Regions from separate parts of the Homo sapiens genome. Here region 2 is linked to region 1. A link means that fine-mapping ties the variant in region 1 to the expression of a gene that starts in the linked region. Tissue or cell type: whole blood. Region 1 holds a variant in brackets; the other region holds the start of a gene. All regions are shown on one strand. Distances are between the middles of the regions.

Region 1 (2,682 bases):
TCTGTGTCTCCTGTTATTCCTGTTCCATACCAAGTAGCATTTTCTTGGGTTTTTGTTTTTTTTTTTTGTACCTATTCCCTGTTTCAGTGCATGTACAGGAAGAGTTGTCTCATCAGGTGCCACTAAGGAAAACTTTCTCCATCAAGCTGCCTGCTGTGCACGTTGCCTGGGCTTTGCCTACCCCTGGTGCTGCATCTGCCTGTGTTCTGTCTTCTGGTTCTGCTGTGCTGTGGGGGAGGGGACGCTTGTACTCCTCTCCTTTTGGCAGGAAGAGTCACTTCCACATTGAGGTCAGAATTGAAAATGGATTTCCCCGTTGGGCAGAGGGATGGAGGCCTGCACTTCCTGTGTAGTGTAATTAATCGCTGCCCCTTCCCTGCCTGCAGCCGTCCAGGCTCAGGGCCGGCCCTGATTAACCATTTCCTGCCCAACGTTGTGAAGGCTACGAAAGACCTGTGTGAGCTTTCGCATCCTTCCTTCCTACAAGTTCGCTATTAATCTCTTGTAGGCCATCCCTCAGGTTAGGGAGCTCTCTGTGCTGGGCTCGTTTCTGCTGTGTGGGGAGAACTCAGTGCCCAAGAGGCTCCATGGAGCAGAAAAGCCTGAGTCCAGAGGAAGAGGGGCAGGAGCTGAGGAAGCGAGGACGGCAGGGCCCTGCTTACGGAGCAAATTTAGTCCATCTTTCTCACTCCCTTCCCATGCCCATGGCTATGTCATCTCAAATGGACAGGGCTCAAAAGAAGGCTTCTCTTCGCCCTTCTAGCTGCCTGATTTTCATGTCATCTGAAGGTACAGTGAGTAAAGAACATGACCTCAGAGATGACATTTGGAAGCCTTTAGGTTGGTTTGAATTCCTGCAACTTCGGAGCCGTCCCTTTCTCACATGTGCATAAGCCATGACATTTGAGAGCTGGAAAGGACAGGATTGTTCGTATTGTTCAATGCCCTCATTTTTGCACATGTGGGAAGTGAGGTATAGAGAAAGGCGGAGTGACTTGTCTAGTGGCAGTTAGCTCGTGAGTAGCAGGATCAAGATGGGAACCCGGGTCTTCATGAACTCTCCGAATGCTTCTTTCAGCAGTTACTTTGGAATTAGAACCGATTAAAGTGTTTGCTGCCTTGATGTGGGGTGTGAGTTGTGTTCCACAGACACAGAGCTCGGTGGATTAATGGTGTGCTGGAACGTGTTTAACTGTGGGCTCTCTGAGGGGAAAAAGCGTGATTATCCATAAGTACGTAAGTTTATTATACATTTTGCT[G/A]TTATGAAAGATGTGGAACATGCAATTTATAATAACGATAAAATATATAACACTCTTTGTTATAAATTCCATAGAACCAATAGATTCTCACAGCATGGTCTTGTTGATTTTTGTTGAATTCTTGTAACTACCTGGTTGCAATTGCTGAATGAGTGTAGTTCTGATATAAATGTTGAATGATATTTTCTTGTATGTTAATGTATTAGACAAAAGTGAAACCACGAAGACATAGGTTGAAACCTCACTCATTCATCAACGACATGAGTGACTTCTTTTCTAAATCAAATACTGGGAGAATATTTCCTCAAATTTTCATGTTATTCACAATGTAACAGCCACAGACACAGACGTGGCACTCTTTTGAGTTTAATCTTCATTATGAACATTCCCCATCACTTTAAGTCTAGACAAGCAACAAAACAATAAATCAAGACCTGATTCCCAGCACTTGCCAATTTACATCCATGGTGTAAATATTCTCACCATGACAGATTTCAAGCTAACACTGTGATGTCACAGAACTCAATTAGAAAGACATGTGTAGCCACACATTCTTATATAATTTTCTACTATGCAGATATAATAGATGTAAATAACCTCAAGAGAATAGATGATAATATAATGTAGTAAAATAATGGAAACGATATGTTCTTAGCATTTATTACCTTTTCTTTTAATATAACTTATTTAAGTGTGTATAATTTAACTTTTAATAATGTCTATACTTAACAGCTTCTCAGAAAATTTCTGAAAATTTAGAATCAGCTCTTGTGAGCTGATAGAAGCAACCTCCAGCGTGTCACTAGCAGAAGATCAATGGGATGGTGCTTAGCCTGGCTTTACTCTTCTCAGTGTATACCCAAGGCCACTAGACTGAGGAGGCCAGGACGATGGCTATTTGGGTAAGAAGGCATGGGCCGAACTCATGCTGAGGGATGGGGTAAATTTAAGAACAAGAATTAGATCCCATGTACTAGGTAACTAAAGATATTTCGGGGTGCAGTTTCCAAATACTATAGAAAATAGTTTTAAATATCAGACTGTCAAGAAAATGGAAAGGAAACAAGGGGAGAAGAAGAAAGAGAAATAAGAAGGAGAAAACCTGATTAAATAGTAAACGCTTTTTACTAAAAACATAATTTGCTGACACAGAACTTAGGCCTGCTTTTGCGGAAGCTGCCTGACCCATCGCTCCTGCAGCCTCCCACAGGCGCGCACTGTGGTGGACATGGGGCGGGGCCCCTTGGGTATTCCCTGTTTGAGGACCTGACCTCTTACTTCTTTGGAAGGAGAGGATGAGATTACCAGAGCTTTGGATCCATTTTTGGATCAAATGAAAACCGCAGGCTAATCCTTAATGCGTCCCTCTCCTCTTACAGATGCTGGCCTCACCCCAGGGGCGGGGCATCAGATGCCTCACAGT
Region 2 (2,682 bases), 180 kb before region 1:
CGTCAATGTGTCCTCTGCAACGTGTGGGAGCGCTCAGAGCCGCGCGTATCACAGAAACATCATCCAGTCGTCACCCCCAATGCCTCAACCCAGGGACAGGGACAGACTCAATCAGACCTCGGCCCCAGGCGTGGCAGGAGAGGGCCAAAGAGGGGACTTGTGAGCGCAGAGGGAGCGAGCACCGCTCCATGGAGGGCAGGCGCTAGCTGGGAAGTCGGGAGGAGAAAGTGCAACCAGGCGGGGAGGGGAGGATCCCACCGGGGCGTGGCGAGGGCGTTCGGGGTCCGGGTGAGCGGGACCCTACGCGGGACCGTGCGCTCCCAGAAGCTCCCACTCAGCCCAACCTTTTGGGCGAAACCCAGGACACCCAGATAAGGGTGCAGGCGGGGTCACGCGTAAAGCTGTTACTTTGAAGCAGGGCATAAGTGAGAGAGAGATAAAGAGAGAAGGAACAAGGGGAAAAAGAAATGAAGGGGCTGAAGGCCGAGATGTCCTACTTCTAAGTAGTTCTTTGAGAGGCAAAAGCTTCATTGCCATTGCAGTCCGAGGCAGCGCCGCGTGGAGGACCGGCCGGGCGGGGCGCGGGGACCTCTCCAAGGGGTCTCCAGCCTCCGCGCACTCTGCGGTGGCCCCCGGAGGGGGAAACTATTCTGGCAGCTCAGTGGGGGGAAGCTCGTCCGGGCTGTGGTTTCCTTTCCCCGAGACCCCAGCGTTGCACCCCCGAGGCGGCAGGCTCAGTCAACCCTCCCCGGGGGACGGCGGCCCTCTAGCCAGGCGACCTCAGGTCTCGCGACCTCCCGCCGCCCAACCTTCTCCTTTCACCCCCATTCATTTTTCCTCAGCGGCTCCTAGGACGGGCTCAAAAACCAACTCCACACGCAACCCAGCCCACCTCGCGGAGCTGAGAAGCAGGGCTGGGTTCCGAGCGGGCGCCGGCGCCCCTGGCGTGTGGCGGGGAGGTGGCGGCCGCGGGGGGCGCCGCGAGCCGCCCGTGCCCGCCGCGGATGAACAGGCGGCTGCGAGCAGCCCCCGGAGCCGCGCAGCATCCGCGTATCCAGTGACGGTGGAAGCCACGCCCGCTCGAGAGCCGGGGGGCTGTCCTCGCCCCCCCCACCTTTCCCCTCCCTCCGACCCCCTCCCGGCCGCGCTCCCTCCCCTCCTCCCGCGCCGGCCCCCGGCCCGCCCCCGGCTCGGCTCGCGGGAGGCGCTGGGCGCCGGGGCTGGCGCGCTCTCCCGGGCTCACACACAGCCGCGCACGCACGCCCGGGGCCGCTCTCCGCGCCGGCCCTTGCTCCCCGCGCCCATGCGGACGGACCGAGCGACGGAAGATGGCTGACGACTCCACGGGGCCCCGAGGATGCGGCCCGGCGGCGGCGGCGGCGGGAGCGGCAGCGGCAGCGAGGGCGGCAGGGGCAGCGGCAGCAGCGGCGGCGTTGGCTGCGGCGGCGGCGGCGGCGGCAGCAGGAGCCGGAGCGACGGCGGCGGCATCCCCGAGACTCTCCGCACTATCCTTACCCGTGACAGCCACTGACGTCCTCCGCCGCTAGAAGAGACCCCGCTTCTCGGCGCCTGCCCTCCCCCTCGCGGCTCGGTCCGGCCCCGCCAGCACCGCTACCTCCGCCAGCCTCGCCACCATCAGCACCACCTCCACCGCCGCCGCCGCCGCCACCACCACCGCCGGCGGCGGCAGCAGCCATTTCATCTCCACAGAAACCAGACACAAAAACATGGCAGAAATGGAGAAAGAAGGGAGACCTCCCGAAAATAAACGGAGCAGGAAGCCGGCTCACCCAGTGAAAAGGGAGATCAATGAGGAGATGAAGGTATTTTTTGATCTCGGGGGCCAGGGAGACTGAGCTCTTTCTTGCGCCCGCTCCCCGTGGGCCGTGGTATGGATCTGGGGGGTACCGGGGCGCGCTTGTCAGTTTCTGTAGGATGCCCAGAACGGCTCCGCTCCTCCTCCAGGTGTAAAGCAGAGGCCAACTCGAGGGCTGCATCCCCGAAATTGTTGCCAACCTCAGATTTGATGAGGGGGGACCACATACTATTTAACCTTACGAATCCCAGGTTGGCACGGACGCGTTTCAGGGCGAGGGCACCGGGGACTCGAGCGGCGTTGGGCAGGGGAAGAGGCTTTCCCAGTGGACGGTGCAGTTTCTCCCCCCTTTTTGAGAATCATCCTCAGGGTCCCTCCAAAGTTAGGAGCCTCCTGGCCGGGGCACCCCGGAGAGAGCTCTATTCCACCCCTCTCCCCCAGCTCACCCTCCTGCTCCTCAATCCCGCTTCCCCCCAACCAACCAGCTGCGACGGCGTGAAGAGCCCGTCAGTGCCCGGCGAGCTGCGGCCCGAGAGGCGCGGGTCTGGGCACGGTCCTGACCGCTCTCCTCGCCCGCCCCCGCCCGCACCTCACCACTGGCAGCCTCCGCCTCCCGCTCGCCTCTGCCTGCCTCACTTCCCAGCCAAGCAGACCCCGGCCAGCCCCGCTGGAGGACAGCTGTCTGAGGGGCGGCCTTTGCAGGGCGCCTGTCCATTGTTCGCTAAGGCCGGCCCGGAGTCCTCTCGGCGAGGCTGGGCTCCCCGCCAGGCCAGCGGTGCACCAGAGGTGGAGAGCGCAGCAGCCTGGCGCTCCAGCTGTTCGCGTTAGAGCAATTGCACAAGAGCACCGCTCAGCTCTGGACCCCC

Evidence for each region. PIP is the estimated chance that this variant, and not a neighbour inherited with it, causes the effect.
Region 2: it holds the start of SOBP, and the variant in region 1 is fine-mapped to the expression of SOBP in whole blood (TOPMed, PIP above 0.99).

What each region holds. Positions count from the first base shown.
Region 1 is chr6:107,670,728-107,673,409 of GRCh38, forward strand. No RefSeq gene overlaps it. Among named protein-coding and RNA genes, the nearest start is that of SCML4, 150 kb to the right of the region's middle. RefSeq lists enhancers at 144-203, 2,602-2,682. The variant G/A (reference allele first, on the strand shown) is at 1,260.
Region 2 is chr6:107,488,890-107,491,571 of GRCh38, forward strand. It overlaps SOBP (sine oculis binding protein homolog), which reads left to right and starts at 1,228. Exons shown (of 7, transcript NM_018013.4): 1 at 1,228-1,823. The coding sequence starts at 1,728. RefSeq lists silencers at 1,458-1,507, 1,548-1,607.